Linked DNA regions of Homo sapiens: all the other regions are reported to be linked to region 1. Evidence: microRNA targets listed by miRTarBase, many of them from high-throughput screens and not tested one by one. Region 1 holds a microRNA gene; each other region holds the end of a gene's coding sequence. Distances are from middle to middle.
What was found. Region 1 holds the annotated microRNA hsa-miR-6512-5p (UACCAUUAGAAGAGCUGGAAGA, at 1,252-1,273, shown strand). A microRNA usually pairs through its seed, bases 2 to 8, with sites in the 3' UTR of a target mRNA and lowers its output. Matches are read on the target gene's strand: a 7mer-m8 pairs with bases 2 to 8, a 7mer-A1 pairs with bases 2 to 7 and ends in A, and an 8mer does both.

Region 1 (3,261 bases):
ATACAGGCCTTGTCCAGAAGGGATCAGGTTTCTATGTTATATAATTAGGCAAGACTTTAAATAGTAAGACATGCACCTGTGGTGCTTTTGTCTCTAACTCCACAAATTTCAACATGCATACAAATCAAGAAGGGGTGGGGGTGTTACATGCAAATTCTGCTTCAGTGGGTGTTGGAGCCTGAGATTCTGGCTTTCTAACAAGCTCCCAGGTAAGTGCTGATGCTGCTGCTTTGAGGGCCACACACCTTGAGGAGTAGGAAGAGTACTCATACTGGAAGAGTATTCAGCACGGACTGGAATCCTGCATACATATCTGAGCTCTGTGTTCTGGTATGTATATAGACTTTTTAAAAAAATTAGTAGAGATGGGGTCTCACCATTTTGGCCAGGCTGGTCTCAAACTCCAGGGCTCAAGAGATCCTCCTGCCTTGGCCTCCCAAAGTGCTGAGATTACAGGCATGAGCCACTATACCTGGCTTATATAGACTGCTTCTAAGGTCCATTCTAACTGTACAATTCCATGATTCAGTCACTGTTTGGCTATTAACTAATTTTTTTAGGCTTCTGATTCTCATTGTTTATAAGCTGCTATATTAGAGAATGTTCTGTACTGGAAGGCCAGATAAAAAGTCTTACTTATGGCCAGTAAGTTTTATTTTTCAATCTTCTACAAGTCTGCCTCAACCCATGGGAAATCTTGGCTAATAGTAACATGATACTGGGCTTGGACCATAAACTAAACTTGAGTCAGCAATGTAGGGCTTTGGTTAGATAAGCAAGAATGAACTTGGGAATATAACCAAAAGAAAGGGACAGCTAATCCTACCAGAACAGGCAGTATTTATATGAATACTTTTTTCAAATATCCACAACTGGGAAAAGCTGCTGAACACATAAAGAAAAGTTAAAAGCACGGCATTATTTAGCTAGTGAAAAGAGAACAAAGAATGCCTTAAGAATAATTTTTGAATGGCAGCAGAAACCAGCATATCCTGTGAAGTAAATGCATTTTCAGGACCTCAAAATAGATTTAGGTTGCCTCTAAAGCAGAACTTTCCCATGATAATGATGATCCTAGGTGGTAGGATTGCCAATGGTAATTTTCTTTCCCAAAGATTCTTACAACCAACCATAAACCTACTAGATAACCTATCAGTTGTGTTATTAACTGATATATCAGTTGGGGTTCAGTGCAGACACTTCTCTAGGTACTGAATGCTAAGAATTATATGCTTAAAAATTATATGCTCTTACCATTAGAAGAGCTGGAAGAAGGCTGAGGGAGATGCCTTCTTCCAGCCCTTCTAATGGTAGGAGCATTAAGAGGGATGCTGTTGGGCTCGCAGTTCAGTCCACACAGCTACAATCTAGAGGTCAGGAAGCTATAAAGTCCACTGCTGGCATCACAGTCATTTCTCACAGATGAAGTTAGTGGCAATGCAGAGGCACAGAAAGTCTGGTCATTAAAAACCACATTTAATGTTGCACGTACATCAACAACTACCAGTGAAAACTAATAGGCAGCCAGGCATGTTGGTGCATGCCTGAAGTCCCAAACATTTGGGACACTGAGGTGGGAGGATCCTTGAGCCCAGGAGGTCTAGGCTGCAGTGAGTTGTGATTGTGCCACTGTACTCCAGCCTGGACAGAACAAGAATCTTTCTCAAAAAATAAATAAATAGAGAGAGAGAAGGAGGGAGGGAAGGAGGAAGGTAAAAAGAGAGAGAGAGAAAGGAAGGAAGGGAAAGAAGAGGAAGGAAGGAAGGAAGGAGAAGAGAAAGAAAAGGAAGGAAGGAAGGAAGGAGAAAGAGAAAGAAGGAAGGAGAAAGAAGAGAAAGAAAAGGGAGGAAGGAAGGAAGGAAGGAAAACTAATAGGCAGGGGAAATAGCCTCTCTCTTCCTTTTACCTTTCTAATTTCGCATCATTATATCTGACTGGCACAGTTTAAATTGTTTAACAAATCCTATTAGCAGCTCAGCCTAGAATTATAGTTATTGAGCTTTGTTCCTAACTCAGTATAAATCTATCTTTATTGAAGTATAGCATACAGACAGAAAAATGCACAAATTATAATCAGAGAGCTTGATGAATTTTCATAAAGTAAACACACCTACATATTGCTAGCACCCAGATTGGGAGGCAGAAACTACTACCATACCAGAAGCTCCCTTCATTATCTTTTCTAGGCATTATCCTCCCTCAAATTGACTGTAATCTTGGCTTCTAATACCCTAGACCAATTTGGCCTATTTTTAAACATTAGACAAAATGGAATGATACAGTGTGTATTATTTTATTACTGGCTTTTCCTACTCAACTATTTGTGAGATTCATTCATGTTGAGAGTAATAATAGTATCTTCATTTTCATTGCTGTGTAGTATTCCATTGTATGAATATAACACAATTTATACGTTCTACCAAAGATGGACATTTGGGTTGTTTCCAATTTGAGATTACTGCAACTAGTGCCACTGTGAACATTGGTGAACACACACACACACACATATTTCAGTTGGATATATAAAAGTGTAATTTCTCTGATGCATGGGGTTCAGCTTGAGTAGTACTGCCCAACAGTTTTTCACATCTTCATCAAAACTTGATCTTTTCCATCTTTTAAATTTTAGCCATTCTCTTCAAAGACTAATGCAGTGTATTGAATCTCATTGTTGTTTTCATTTTTCTGATATCAAATAAACACCTTTTTAATTGTTTATTGGCCATTTGGGTACCCTCTTCTGTGAAATGCCTATTCATGTGTTTTGTGTGATTTTCTATGGGCTTGTCTGCCTTTTCTTGTTTTTATAGTCCTTTATTCTGGATATGAGTCCTTTGTCGGGTATATGTATTGATAATATCTTTTGCCACTATGTGGCTTTTTGTTTTTTGTTTTTTTTTTTTGAGATGGAGTCTTGCTCTGTCACCCAGGCTGGAGTGCAGTGGCGTGATCTCGGCTCACTGCAAGCTCCTCCTCCCGGGTTCACGCCATTCTCCTGCCTCAGCCTCCCAAGTAGCTGGGACTACAGGTGCCCGCCACCATGCCCAGCTAATTTTTTGTATTTTTAGTAGAGACGGGGTTTCACCATGTGAGCCAGGATGGTCTCAATCTCCTGACCTTGTGATCTGCCTGCTTCGGCCTCCCAAAGTGCTGGGATTACAGGCGTGAGCCACTGTGCCCAGCCCACTCTGTGGCTTATTTTATTCACTCTTTTAATAGTGTATTTTGAAGAAGACATTCATAATTTTGAATTAGTTTAGT
Region 2 (3,261 bases), not on the chromosome of region 1:
CTGTCTCTACAAAAAATACAAAAATTAGCCGAGTGTGCTGGTGCATGCCTGTGGTCCCAGCTACTCGTGAGGCTGAGGTTGGAGGATCACCTGCACCTCGGAGGTCAAGGCTGCAGTGAGCCATGATCACACCACTGCATTTCAGCCTGGGTGACAGAGTGAGCAGAGTGAGACCCTGTCTTGAAAAAGAAAAAAAAAAAAGAAAAAAGAAAAATAATAATACATATATAACCTGCAATAAAAAATGTAAGAAAAAACAAAAAGTAAAAGAAAGGGAGGGAAGGAGGAAGGAAAGGAATTTATCTTAAAATATTTAATTCAAATAAATTTTAAATTCCTGATCTCTAAAAGTTTACATTTCAAAAAAGGAAAAGAAGTTCTCTGAATGCTGACATTACAATAGGAATACATTCAGGTTTTAGATCTTAAAGTAAAAATTATATGGCTGTTGTCCACAAATCATGATTATAAAGCAAACACCTAAGACAACGAAATCAATTTTCTTATTTGCTACCTCATTCTATTAGAGCCAGCTGGAAAATATAAGAACCACAAGGCTTATAGACACAAGAAACAAGGTGATTTGCTTTTGCCTCCCCTCGACCTTTTCATTACCCACTTACAGACAGAAATTAAACTACTTGCTGGATTTTTCAAAACCAGAATATAAAAGCCCTCCTTTTTCCTTTGAACAAATTGATAAGCATAATAAAAATCACTTTCATTCTTTTTATGTTGTTTGGCCCAATAGCTTCAGGAGCTCTATGATGGTTTATTTAGGCCTCACTGAAGCAGAGGCAATACCCATACAATCTCCACAGCAACAAAAGAAATTGTCATTGAAGCACAAGGGATTTATCATTAGGACGTATGTACACGCCTATCATGTATGTATGTGATGTTTTTAAAACACTCTACAAATGTTTTTGAATTACAACATGTATGACATGTTCTAGCTTATTATCCTATATTTGGTATACCATTTGGAAGTCTTGAATTTGCACTTTGCCAAGAACTGTAGTTAAGAATAAAAGGCAGAGGAAACTGATTATTTCTTGCCTCCAAGTATCTTACTGCCTATGCTTAGTTTACAAGCTCAGATAAATGTTATTTTCAGGCAAGCTGTGAATTATATCAAATGATTTTGAAAGACATAAAGAAAAGCCATAGCTTGGATCGTTAGTAAATAAAGACCTCTTGAAATTCATGTTGACTTTCCACATAGAAAGTGGAAGGAAACTTTTCTGCAAAGCAACTCATCCACATAAAAAATAGTCAAAAAGGACTTCATTTAATTAGTGGTATGTAAAGACTCTTGCATAGAAAAAGGTTACAAAGTAATGCAAAAAAGACTAGGTACAGTAATTTCAAAACAAATATTTAAAAGTATAATTTTGCATAACGTTTAACATTCTCATAATGTTTATTGCTTTCTCCACACAGTAGAGAAATGAAGTGCATAATACATGCTGTGTCTCTTATCTTTTAAACAAAAACTCTCACGTGCTTGATTTCAGCATATTAAGAGATTATTTTGTCATTAAACGAAATCGAAAAAAACAAAACCACAACCCCATTACATAGCACTAGTTTAGGCATGGGCAAAAATAACTTATGTACATCCCATTGCATACATTCATCTTGTTTTGGGATCAAATGCAATCACTAACTTGACAAAGAGCTTTAAAAATTGTAGCTTTTCTCTTCCTAGTGCTCCCTCCTTGCTTCATCACCTCCAGAAATGTAACTTCTCCCAAAGGGTGACAAGAATAGATGTTGCATCATTAGGAGAAAATGAAGAGGATAAATATATAAAAATAGTCCTAATGAAACTGAATAAATTAAACCAAACTCCTACAAACTGGAGAGTTTTCAAGTTGGCATGAATTAAATAGCCTCTGGTGGACACATGGTAGGCAACTGCTCATAGGTGCACTATATAAATGTAAGGTTTATATAAAGCAGCACCATATTTTGAGCCATCCAAAAAAAAAAGTGCCTGGGGGCCTGCAGGCAGAGCAGAAATGCTTGTTAATCTGAGAACTGATGAAATAATTGCTTATACCAATGCACTGCTAAATGTCACCTCTTGGCATGTCTGTACAAAGAAGGCAAACTAAGATAAAACTAGATCTTTCAACTTGAAAATTATTTTCAGCAGTCATTTTGACCAGTAAAACCTGTTGGTTTCAGCAGAATACTCTTCTCTGGCATGGTATTAAAATGTCTGCAGCCTATTGCAAGACTTCTGTCCCTTTCCTTTCTTAACCTATCCTCCACACTCGTCTTCCCTTGTGCAATGTTATATATCCAGAAGAAAACTTCCTAAGCTCAGGCACTTACGAAACACGACTCTCTCACTCTCTCTCTATATATGTATGTCCCATCTAGTCTCAAGAGAATTCAGTCAGGGCATTTTACTTCCCCAATTCAGACATACTGATGCACTGCTGGATGGTACGGTCCATATATTTTCCAGGAAACTTCTAAATGGTAACAAGTGTGAAGTTTTCAAAAGTTGCTGATGTCAGTTACCGAGCTGCCTTGAACCAAACAAAAAAGGGAGAGAAAAAAAAGAGAATACCACATTTCCACTCGTGAGGTTTGTGTCTCAAATAGCTTTATTGTTCCTTTGTGGATCTGTCGGCATCTGTATGGCTACCTTCAGGGTGCAGAGGTTTTAAGCTGACTCTGAAATGGAGGACATTCAGTTACTATTGCAAGAAGTTCAAGAAAAATTTAAAAAGCTCCAACTTCTGTCCCCCAGGGTCGGTAAGGTTTATTGTTTGTTCCACTGCTGGTCTGCTGAGGACTGGACGTGGCTGATACTGACAAGGGCGGGCTGATGGCTGTGGCCGCGGCCACTGCTGCTGCTGCGTTTGGGGGAAGCATGGGGAATGCCCCCGCGAAGGACAGAGGGAAGCTGTGTGCAGCCGCGGTGGCTGCTGCGGCTGCGGCGTGGACGGTGGCAGAGAGGGACAAGAGAGAGGTGGAGAGAGGTGGCACGCAGGGGGCGACGCTGCCCGTGGATGGCATTCGGAGGGCTGAATCCGCATGGGCAAACGTGGCCGTGAGGAGAGCAGAGCCGTGGGCAGGAGGCACTTCTGAAGTTGTGGAGAGGCGACAAGGGGTTGACTCTGAGGCATGGAGGCCGTTGGGCTGGAGCAGGGCTGCGGGCAGGTGGTGGAAGGCGGCGGCCCAGTGATGCGGGTGGAGCGGATGATGGTGGTGGGCCATGGAGGATGTCATGGCCGCCGCCTC
Region 3 (3,261 bases), 14 Mb from region 1:
CAGACGCGTTCAGTGGACTGACGGCCTTACCTCGGAGCATCCTTTTATTTGGACCTCGGGGGACAGGCAAAACATTATTGGGCAGATGCATCGCTAGTCAGCTGGGGGCCACATTTTTCAAAATTGCCGGTTCTGGACTAGTCGCCAAGTGGTTAGGAGAAGCAGAGAAAATTATCCATGCCTCTTTTCTTGTGGCCAGGTGTCGCCAGCCCTCGGTGATTTTTGTTAGTGACATTGACATGCTTCTCTCCTCTCAAGTGAATGAGGAACATAGTCCAGTCAGTCGGATGAGAACCGAATTTCTGATGCAACTGGACACTGTACTAACTTCGGCTGAGGACCAAATCGTAGTAATTTGTGCCACCAGTAAACCAGAAGAAATAGATGAATCCCTTCGGAGGTACTTCATGAAACGACTTTTAATCCCACTTCCTGACAGCACAGCGAGGCACCAGATAATAGTACAACTGCTCTCACAGCACAATTACTGTCTCAATGACAAGGAGTTTGCACTGCTCGTCCAGCGCACAGAAGGCTTTTCTGGACTAGATGTGGCTCATTTGTGTCAGGAAGCAGTGGTGGGCCCCCTCCATGCCATGCCAGCCACAGACCTTTCAGCCATTATGCCCAGCCAGTTGAGGCCCGTTACATATCAAGACTTTGAAAATGCTTTCTGCAAGATTCAGCCTAGCATATCTCAAAAGGAGCTTGATATGTATGTTGAATGGAACAAAATGTTTGGTTGCAGTCAGTGATAACTTCTTTAGAAAAAAAAAATGTAATGAATGTTGGCACACACACATAAAACCTGCTACATAGGGAATAGAGCCCCTTTCCAGTAGAGTTTAAATTGCAAAGGGTACTGGGGAAGATGACGATTAAGTTGCATCTTTAGAGTCAGGGTAGATTTGGAGGAAAAGTGCATCAAATGAGAGCTTCTGATTTGAAAGCCCCAGATGACAGAAAGCATATGTGGATGCTCAGTTCTGTTCAAGCTAGACAACACTCACCAAGGAGCAAGGTGCAAGTGTGTTGATTTCAGAAGGACATGAACCTCGTGTGTTGATTCCATTCTGCTGTTCTCGAGATTTAGTTGCTGTCAAGTGCCTGGAGTGGTGCTTTATTTTTTGTTTGCCTCACAATTACATTGGTGGCATGTGCTAATATAAAGAGCTTTAACTTCAAACATTATTGGACTAAAGAGATGAACAGTTGTGTTATGACAGAAAACCAGATTTTTGCCATTTTAAGAGCAACAGTATTCCTCAATCCTGTCTGTTCTGCAGTATTAAGCTAAGAACAGGTAAAACAGGGTAACGGTAATCTGGACCTTAATTTCTGCAGTTCATTTCTTTTAATGTTCTTGTCTGCAAAAACTCAGGAAAGTGATTGTGATTTGTACAGTACCTCAAAGGAATGTGTTGAAAGCACTATGTACTGCTGAGAGTAATAGGATAGGCTTCAATGTTACTTTATATTAAAATGTATGTTTACCTCAACAATTGGAAAATAGCAAGGAAAATTACTTTGAATGTATCCAGAAAAATACTGAAGTGTGATACAACTGAATATTTACAGTTTAAAGTAGAAATGGAAGGATTTTTTTAAGTTCTTTTACTAATTATGGGGAATTAACCAGAGCAGAATAATTCTTTATGTCAATAACTGCAAGAGTTCTTAGTACATTGCTCCTTGATAATTAAGTGAAAATGTTCTTAAAAGGTACACTGGTTAATTGAAAGCTACTTATTCAGTTTGTGTTAGTGTCTAGACCTGTCAGCCACAAGACCTGTTTAGGACCCTGAAAGTCACAGTACCTAAAAACTATGACTGCCTTTTTATTGCATAGGTGGTAGTGGTGGTGATGGTGGTGGTAGTTTGCAAGTTATCTCTTAAAACTGCTGGGAATGGTGTCATTCTATTCACTAATCTAGCTTATAGACTTGCCGTGCTGTTTGATAGAATGCAGAGGATAGCAACCAAAACAAATACACAAATAAATAAAAACAAAAACCAACCAACAAACCAACTTACATACACATATATATATCCACAAAGAACCTCTCCATCTCCTCCCCTTCTTTTTGACTCCACTCTTGTCAGTGCAATTTTGCTTCTCATTTTGAAATCTGGGCTGTAGTGCTCCTGCTTTATTTCTACCTCAGTTTTGTTACATTTCTCTTGGAAAGTAAAGTAGAAAATTGGAAGTGGACACACACACTGCAATGTAGCTTGCCAAACATGTTACTTTGTTTTCTTCCATCTTTCACCGTAAATCTAGTTTCCAAAGACATCAGCATTTGTGCTTACTTCCACCTCAGTCTACCAGCCCCACCCCTACCCATGGCATAAGTGGCATTTTTCTTAATTTCCTATTTTTCTCCTGCTCTCTGTCAAGTTGTTCTTTGTATCCTTTAATGCTTTATGTGCAACCTTTCATTGATAGTGGGCTGATGTTTGGCAATGCTTCTGAACTGTCACAGAGCAGGCTGTAGCTTTCCACAGCCACTGCCCATGCATAAGCAGAACAGCCTGGCCTTTTGAATGTATTTTCCTGGGTTTTTTCCCCTTTTCTTTTTTTAGTTTAGAGATGCAGTAACAAAACTGTTGCAAAGCACTGGCATTTTATGTATTCAATAAATAAGTGATGTACATTTTTAAAAAAATTTAAATAAATGCAATGAGAAGCCCCAAGAAAGGCCTTTCTGTTTTTTTTTTCTTACAAAAATTTTTACCGATCTTATCCACAATATCCAATTCTCTGAAACACTTAACATAGAGAAAGCTCATGAGGGATTTCTTATCTCTGAAATTTTATGATGCTTGATCTTTACTCCCCTTTTTTTATTTTTTATGTTGCTAAAAACTGAGCAATTGAACCAGAATTTAATTTACTGTGACATTCTGTCAATTAAAGCTGTGCTTAAATATAAATATTCCATATTAAAAAGCAGTGCCTTTCATTAAGGATACAAAAAATAATACTTAAATACGCCCTCTGCTTTTCGCAAGTGAATAAATGCTACAATCGTGTTCTGGGTCTACCCTGTGCATCCCTTGTAAGGAAATTCTAATATCCACATTAACTTGTAGGTTCATATTGATCTCACTGACAAGTTTACTTTTGCACAGTGCTGACCTATTTTCTGACTTTTAGACATTATATTTCATTTCCGCCAACATGCTGTGTTCACTTGAAAGCGTCTGGCAAGTTTTGACAAACCCAGTCTTATTTAGACAACTTTGGAAAATCCAATATTG

Region 2: the mRNA of HEY2 is a reported target of hsa-miR-6512-5p. The part of its 3' UTR that is shown has no 7-base or 8-base seed match.
Region 3: miRTarBase lists FIGN as a target of hsa-miR-6512-5p. The part of its 3' UTR that is shown has no 7-base or 8-base seed match.

What each region holds. Positions count from the first base shown.
Region 1 is chr2:177,311,865-177,315,125 of GRCh38, reverse strand. MIR6512 (microRNA 6512) reads left to right here and starts at 1,244; the gene lies at 1,244-1,320. The region is part of intron 6 of LOC100130691 (Putative uncharacterized protein FLJ44553); the gene reads left to right.
Region 2 is chr6:125,759,281-125,762,541 of GRCh38, reverse strand. HEY2 (hes related family bHLH transcription factor with YRPW motif 2) reads right to left here. Exons shown (of 5, transcript NM_012259.3): 5 at 1,273-3,261. The coding sequence ends at 2,740. Among named protein-coding and RNA genes, the nearest start is that of HEY2, 11 kb to the right of the region's middle.
Region 3 is chr2:163,607,046-163,610,306 of GRCh38, reverse strand. It overlaps FIGN (fidgetin, microtubule severing factor), which reads left to right. Exons shown (of 3, transcript NM_018086.4): 3 at 1-3,261. The coding sequence ends at 755. Among named protein-coding and RNA genes, the nearest start is that of FIGN, 130 kb to the left of the region's middle.